Linked DNA regions of Homo sapiens: region 2 is reported to be linked to region 1. The links are microRNA targets in miRTarBase. Many come from high-throughput screens and were not tested one by one. Region 1 holds a microRNA gene; the other region holds the end of a gene's coding sequence.

Region 1 (4,150 bases):
AATCAGAGCTGAACTGAAGGAGACTGAGACATGAAAAACCATTCAAAAGATCAATGAAGCCAGGAGCTGTTTTTTTTTAAATTAATGAAATAGACTGCTAGTTAGACTAATAAAGAAGAAAAGAGAAAAAAAACAAATAAACAAAATCAGAAATGACAAAGAGGGTATTTCTGACTGCACAGAAATAAAAATAATCATCACAGATTATAATGAACACCTAAGATTTTTGTCAGAGCTTTTGTTCAGAATGGTATTTTCTAGGTTATATTCCGGTGTTTTTATAATTTTAGGATTTACATTTAAGTCTTTAATCCATCTTAAGTTGATTTTTGTGTAGGGTGTAAGGAAGGGGTCCAGTTTCAATCTTCTGCACATGGCTAGCCAGTTATCCCAGCACATTCATTCAACAGGGAGTCCTTTCGCCATTGCTTGTTTTTGACAGCTTTGTCATAGATCAGATGGTTGTATGTGTGTGGCCTGACTTCTGGGCTCTCTATTATGTTCCATTGGTCTATGTGTGTGTTTTTGTACCAATACCATCCCGTTTTGGTTACTGTAGCCCTCTTGAAGTCAGGTAGCATGATGCCTCTAGCTTTATTCTTTTTGCTTAGGATTGCCTTCACTATTCCAGGTCTTTTTTTGTTCCATACAAATTTTAAAATAGTTTTTTACTAGCTCTGTAAAGAACATTATTGGTAATTTGATAGGAATAGCATTAAATCTATAAATTGCTTTGGGCAGTATGGCCATTTCAACAATATTGATTATTCCAACCCATGAGCATGGAATGTTTTTCCATTTGTTTGTGTCATCTCTGATTTCTTTGAGCAGTGTTTTGTAATTCTCATTGTAGATTTGATTATTTTTGTGGCATTTGTGAATGGAATTGCATTCCAGATTTGGCTTTTGGCTTGACTGTTGTTGGTGTATAGTAATGCTAGTGATTTTTATATGTTGATTTTGTATCCTGAAATTTGATGAAGTTGTTTATCAGTTGAAGAAGCTTTTGGACCAATACTATAGAGTTTCCTAGATATAGAATTCTGTTGTCTGCAAACAGGGATACTTTGACTTCCTCTTATCTTATTTAGATACCCCTTTATTTCTTTCTCTTGCCTAACTGTTGTGTCCAGAACTTCCAATACTATGTTGAATAGGAATGAGGTGGGAGGACATCCTTGTCTTGTGCCCATGTTCAAGCGGAATGCTTCCAGCTTTTGTCCATTTAGTATGATGTTGGATTTGTCAAAGATAGCTCTTATTATTTTGAGGTAGTTTCCCTCAAAACCTAGACTACCTGATCTTCAACAAACCTGATAAAAAACAAGCAATAAGGCAAGAATTCCCTATTCAATAAATGGTGCTGGGAGAACTGGCTAGCCATATGCAGAAGATTGAAACTGGATCCCTTCCTCACACTATAAGCAAAAATCAACTTAAGAAGGATTAAAGACTTAAATGTAAATCCTAAAATTATAAAAACATTGGAAGATAACCTAGGAAATATCATTCTTGACAAAAGCTCCAACAAAAATATTAGGATGATGATGCTAAAAGCAATTGCAATAAAAACAAAGATTGACAGATGGGCCCTAATTAAACTAAAGAGCTTCTGCACATCAAAAGCAACTATCAACAGAATAAACAGAAAACCTACAGAATGAGAGAAATAACTGCAAACTACGCATTTGACAAAGGTCTAATATCCAACATCTGTAAGGAATTTAAAGAAATTTACAAGAAAAAAAGCAAACAACCCCATTAAAAAGTGGGCGAGAGACATGAACAGACATTTTCCAAAGACACAAATGCAGCCAACCAAGCCTGTGAAAAAGTTCTCAATATCACTGATCATTAGAGAAATGCAAATAAAAACTGTGAGATACCATCCCACACTAGTCAAAATGGCTATTACCCAAAAGTCAAAAAATAACAGATGCTGGCAAGATTGTGGAGAAAAGGGAATGCTCATACATTTTTGGAAGGAGTGCAAATTAGTTCAGTCATTGTGGAAAGCAGTAAGGCAATTCGTCAAAGAGCCAAAAAAGGGACTAAGAATTGACAGCAAACTTGTTACTGTATATATGCCCAAAGTAATATAAATTGTTCTGTATAAAGACACACACATACGTGTATGTTCATTGCAGCACTGTTCAGAATAGCAATGACATGGAATCAACCTAAATGCCTATCAATGGTAGACTGGATAAATAAAATGTTGTACATATATACCATGGAATACTATGTAGCCATAAAAAGAATGAGATCATGTCCTTTGCAGGAACATGGATGGAGCTAGAGGCCATTATCCTGAGCAAATTAATGCAGGAACAGAAAACCAAATATCACATTTCTTATTTACAAGTAGGAGCTAAATAATGAGCATGAACACAAAGAGAGGAACAACAGAGACCTGCCAGAGGGTGGAAGGTGGGAGCAAGGAGAGGAACAGAGAAAATAACTATTGAGTACTAGGCTTCGTACCTGGTAATGAAATAATGTGTACAACAAACCCCTGTGACACAGTTTACCTATAAAACAAACCTGTATGGTACCCCTGAATCTAAAATAAAAGTTTGAAAAAGTAAAATAAAAGTAAAAATAAAAGCATAAGTGCATATAAATCAATATAGCATAGGTTTAAATCCTGTTTTTCCCACTTACTATTCTGGTCAGATATCCCATGAAGCAGTGGGTAGGAGGACAGGAAAAAGCTCATACGGCCACTAGAAATACATGTGTGACTAGGTAACCTCATATTCGAAATTCATAGTTTACCCGTGAGAATTTGATTACTGAAATGGAATAATGATAAATAATACAAAATAAATTAACTATGGAGATGTTACCTTAAAAAAATGTTGGGGCTAGGTGCGCAGATTATATACAATCATTGCTTCTTCCTCAGCTACTGGGCTTGAGGTTGGCAAAGCCAATGGTTGTGAAGGAATGGTGAACGTAAAGTGAGGCAGGGGGAGCAAAGAGAAATGGAACCTTCAAGGAGGAGCCGAAAATTGGGTCAGCCTCTCATTGCCTCCTTGCCTTCATCCCTATGTTGCAGATGAACTTCAGGAGAAGCTTTCCTCACAGAGATAAGCACAGACTTGAACCAGGATCCAAAGAAACTCAAGGAAGGGATGCAACAAAACACGGAGAAATTGAGAGCCTGGCTACTAATGCTGCAGTGTTGCATGCTCTGGCCAAGGACTTAGAAAAGCTGAAGGAGTATAATCAGTGAGAACTGGAAGAACTCTAAGGTGAGCTGCTTTTTCACAACAACCAATAAGCCAGCAGATCAGTGACAATGTGCACAAGCAGTAGAAGCTTCACAGCACCCTGTTCCAACATTCCCAGTATACAAAAATATGGCTGCCCTTTACATGCACATTTCAAATTATGCACACAATTTGTTCTGTGGCTAATACTGTATTGGAGCTATGCAGCAAAGCTTATGCCTAGAACATTTCACTACTAATTTAACTAAGTTGACTTTTTTTTTTTAATCTTTTGGTTTTTGGTCTGCTTTCAGACCACAGCAATCATCAACACAGAAGACTGCTGTTATAAAATGTAGGTGGGTGGGGTTCTCCTCACCACCAAGCAAGCAATAAATTCTGCAGCGGACATTAACTGGGTGTTCTACAATTCAGTTCCAACACTAGCTAGAGATAGGATCAGATCCCTCAGATTGAGAGTTCAGTCCTGATGTATGCCCCCCACTAGAGATCTATTACGAGTCCTAGACTCCAGAACTTCTGACCAACCGTCTTCAAGTCAAAGTTTCCATGACTCCATCTTTGGCTTTCATTAATTTTCTGAAGCAGTTCAAAGAACCCAGAAAAACTCTTACTTTTGTTTACCAGTTTATTTTAAAAGATATTACAAAAGATACAGGTGAAAAGATGCACAGGACAAAGTATGAGGGAAGGGGCACCTAGGTTCCCTAAACCTCCTTTGGCAAGTCATCCTCCAGGAACCTCCACTTGTTCAGCTCTCCAGAAGTTCTTCAAACCCTGTCCTTTGGGGGTTTTATGGAGGCTTAAATAGGTGTGACTGACAACCATGCAGCCTTTTTGTCCAATCACATATAGAGGTGTCCACATGTAGCTGTGTGATTGCATCAAAAGGGCACATGGCTATTACTATGATT
Region 2 (4,000 bases), not on the chromosome of region 1:
CTTTGCGCTGGTATGGGCTCTCGCTCCGCAAAGCCTCTTCCAACATGGGCATCTAGGGAAGCATGTGGCACGCTTCTGAAACCCCAGCAAGAGCCTGCCCATTCCTGTGGTAATAGGCCTTCACACCTCCCAGGGTCTAAACGTCGTTGGCCTCAGGGGGACTAGGCACACTTGGAGGTAGGGACACCAGAAGGACAGAGCCACACTTACCAGCTGGGGACAGAGCTTCTCGGGGGGCAGGTGTAGTGCCAGCATGTCCACAACCTGAGATGGGATGGGGAGACTTACTTTGCTTGACTCCATCTCTGCCTCCCCAACGTCCCACAGCCACCTAACACCTTCCCCCTCTGTCCTGCCCCACATCTCACTTGTACAGCGAAATGCTTGGGAGTCTCCCCCATCAGCTCAATCTCCAACTCTTCCTCTTCTGAATCCTGGTCCTCGGGATCCAACTGGCCTGGTGGGGGCTCAGCAGCCACAATGGGGAAAAGGGTGTGCAGCAAGGGTGGCAGGAGACGATTCTTCAGTAAGGCCTTGACAGAGAAGGTGGAACAGTGTCCCTAAGAATCTGCTCCCAGGATGGGCTCACATTAAAAATTCCAGTCTTCCAGGCCATAAGGGGTCTGACAGAAAATTCCCAACCTCCCAGGCAGGAGCTGGGGTGAGGCCAGGCCAAGGCTTGAACCCCCACAGTACTTTAGATACCCTGAGATGGACCGAAAGCCCCAGGAGTGAGACTAAGGGTGGAGATGGGGGTGGGGTGATGTGTGTCAATGGGCACTCACTTACCTTGCTCTTGACTTTGACCAAGAAAGTGAGGCAGCAGAGAATACGTATGCGTATCGCATTGCCCAGGGCCACATTTCTAGCTACCTGTCCACAGAATAATAAAAATCAGCGACAGGGAAGGAGAGTCCCAGCAGAGCATGTAGCAGGGGCCATGTCCACTCCAGGCTCACCTCCAGGCAGAATGTGAGGACTTCAGAGAGGTAGGGGGTGATGACCGGCACCTCTGACTCCAACAGTTCATCCAAAGCCTCAAGGGCCTCACAGGCCTTTGCCTGACAGACAAACAAGGCACAAGGTTACCATGCTCTTCTTCAGTGGGCCAAACTGGACACTTCTGCACTCTCCTTCCAACAGAGCTCCTGCCCACCTGTCCTCACCTCATCTATGGGGATCAGAGTCTGCATGGCCATGATCAGCTTGGGCACCAACATCCGAGCGAGAGGCTGAGGGACACATCACAGAGAGCATGATGCAGCCCAATCTCACACCCCAGCAGCTGGCAGCTTCCTCACAGCCTGAATTGCGAGGAGGAGCCCAGGCATAACAGCCAGGCCCACCTACAGCATCCCCTCTCAATTGTCAGGAAGGGCCACAGGCAGGTAAAGAATCCAAAGCAGCTTTGTAACTTTTACGGGTGAGGACATGAAGGCATGAGGAAAGGGAGTCAAAGATAACGAGGGCCCACATCTCACCACATCTTCAGTGCTGAGGTAGGGAGCCATGGTGGTCAGAGTGCGCAGGGAGTAGAAGAGCAGCCCAGGAGAGCCCACCTCACCAAGAGTCTCATTCAGAAGCCGAAGAAGCTCCCGGTGGTGGGGTTGGAAGGCCTCGGGCCGGGAGGTCACCACCACACTTAGCAGCAAAAGCCCCATCTGTCCAAGAATAGAGGATGGGAGAGCAAGCTTACAAGGTCTATCCAGCCTCTCAGGCCCTCCCTCCTGCCAACCATGTGATGGTACCTCTCTCTCTGGGCTGTGGGGGCTGTGGGTACTGTGCTGAAGCAGCTGCAAAAGCTGTGGCCAGGCCTCCAAGCCTTCCTTTCGAAAAATGGTGGCTGAGAGCTGGGCCAGGCTGAGGCTCACACAGTGCCTGCAAACAGGAGAGATCTCCTCCAATCACCCTTCAATACCTTCCTCTGCACACAGTGGCCAGGCTCAATGGGGCAGCCAGGACAGAAACTTTCAGGAGGTGTGGGCACAGGGTCTTTGCCAAGTTGGGACACATGAGACAGCAGCTCAGAGGGAGCCCAACAGCACTGTGGGCATGTAATCTGGTAAGTTCAGTCTAACTTAGCCTGAATTTCAGTCTTATTCTTCTGACTTGGGTTTGGCAGATCATCATCACCCTTCCTCAAGAACTTTAGTCTTCAAAACAGCCTTAAAATCCTCACTCCACCTTGCGTCTAGAACTGAAGTCCCTGCCCCACAAGTCCCAGCCTGGAGCCGAAAAGGAAGGCAGAAACCTAGACAAAGTCGTCAAGATCCCGAGAGAAGTGGGTAGGTACTTACTCTGTTTCTCTCTGCAGGGCCGTCAGGATCAGGGACTTGAGGCTGGAACACAGGTGGCAGGTGTTTGGTACCCAGCCTGCCCAAGAAAAGTCTCCGCCTGGCCCCGCCCCACCCCAGGCCCAGCCCACCTCTCCCGTTGCTCCGCCGCCAGCCGTCGCCAGCGGGTGTTCAGTCGTCTGCGGGTCAGCACGGCCGCAAACTGGCGGATCTAGGACGAGGAAGCAAGCACGTGGGGGTCCGGGCAGGAAGGTGCTGAGCGGACCGCAGTGGGCGAATACTGGGGCTTGACCGGTGGCGTACAGTGGGAAGCTCGGAGGGGAGAGTCAGGGGTCTCACCTGGGGGTCGGCCGCCGAGGCTAGCAGGTCGCAGAGAGCCGGCAAAGCGGCGGGGGCCCGAAGAACGATCTGGAGCTGTTCCGTGGCCTGGGGGGAAGCTAGGGGTGAGAGTTGGGCCTTTCCCGCAACCTCCCGCTCGCCCTGGCCCGGTTACGCCTGCTCCGTACCCGACGGATGCGCTCGGTGTCCGGTAGCAGCAGCTCCCGTAGGAGCTGCTCTAGCCCGGCTGACTCCATGGCAGCAACTGAGCCGCCGCTACTGGGCCGAAAAGGGGAGGGGGAGGGACAGCACGTGGAGGTTCTGACACCCACTTCCGGAGGAAAGGGCGTTGCTGCACGCCCCGCGGGTTGCCAAGGTGATTCAATTCGCTTCCCACAAAGAGGTCCGGCTCCTCCACTTCCGTTAGGCTGAGCACCGGCTGAATCGCGGAAACCCGACTCTGGCAATGTAGGTTCCCCACGCCGGGAGTTCCCAAGCTGGGTTGGAGAACTCGAGCTTCGGGCATTCAGTGGCCAGCTCGGCTTTATAAAGGACCGTGCCCTTAACAGCAGGGCTCGAGTTCCTATATCCAGACCAAAACCTCCAACTGCATGAGCCTTTTTCTTAATAAATTTTATTTTGGTAATTGTAAAAAGAAAAATCAGGACCAAAACTAAAGGCAACTTAAAAAGTTCAAATATATAATCCTTATGTGATAGAGATTTATAATTTCCAGGCCCTCTCTGGGGAAGGAATGCCCAAAGGGCAAAAGGGAAGGCAACAATGCCATCACACAATTCAGTCAATCAGAAGAGAAGCTGGTAGGAGAGTTCAACAGGGCATGAAGAAAGGGAGAGAACAGCAATAGTTCTGCCATACAGAACTCAGTCCATCTTGAGGTTAACATAGATATACCGGATGAACTTTAGGGAAGAAAAAAAGGAGATGGTGCCCAGCATGAGGAAGAAGACATAACCAGTGAGTAAGGAGTAGCCGAAGAACTCTACTGTCTGTACTGCCCCAGACATGTTGGAGCGCCGGGCATAATAGAAAACTGAGTAGAGGAAGATGAAGAGGCCGGTGGAGCCAACACTCAGCACAGATCGCCACCACCAGCGGTAATCCTCCCCAGACAACTGGAAGTAGGTGAGTGCAATGGAGATGCAAGCCCCCACACTCAGCAGGATGGCGAAGACAAAGAAGAGGATGCCGTACAAAGTGTACTGCTCCCGACCCCATACTGTGGCAAAGATGTAGTACAGCTCCACAGAGATGGCACTGTGAAGAAAAGAGATGATACACAGCATTAAAGGGCTGTGCACCATCAGCACAGTGGCTGGGCTGAAATCCAGCCCCCACCCTCTCCCATGTTGCTGGGTCATTGTGAA

Evidence for each region. Region 1 holds the annotated microRNA hsa-miR-8060 (CCAUGAAGCAGUGGGUAGGAGGAC, at 2,682-2,705, shown strand). A microRNA usually pairs through its seed, bases 2 to 8, with sites in the 3' UTR of a target mRNA and lowers its output. Matches are read on the target gene's strand: a 7mer-m8 pairs with bases 2 to 8, a 7mer-A1 pairs with bases 2 to 7 and ends in A, and an 8mer does both.
Region 2: the mRNA of TM9SF1 is a reported target of hsa-miR-8060. Seed matches in the 3' UTR shown: 7mer-m8 at 3,453-3,459.

Annotation. Positions count from the first base shown.
Region 1 is chr3:96,357,325-96,361,474 of GRCh38, forward strand. MIR8060 (microRNA 8060) reads left to right here and starts at 2,640; the gene lies at 2,640-2,715.
Region 2 is chr14:24,185,919-24,189,918 of GRCh38, forward strand. It overlaps TM9SF1 (transmembrane 9 superfamily member 1), which reads right to left. Exons shown (of 6, transcript NM_006405.7): 6 at 3,231-3,890. The coding sequence ends at 3,497. It overlaps IPO4 (importin 4), which reads right to left and starts at 2,898. Exons shown (of 30, transcript NM_024658.4): 1 at 2,801-2,898; 2 at 2,634-2,720; 3 at 2,426-2,505; 4 at 2,298-2,339; 5 at 1,749-1,878; 6 at 1,482-1,661; 7 at 1,167-1,232; 8 at 960-1,061; 9 at 790-873; 10 at 369-533; 11 at 211-264; 12 at 1-52. The coding sequence starts at 2,869. RefSeq lists silencers at 1,894-2,104, 2,350-2,469.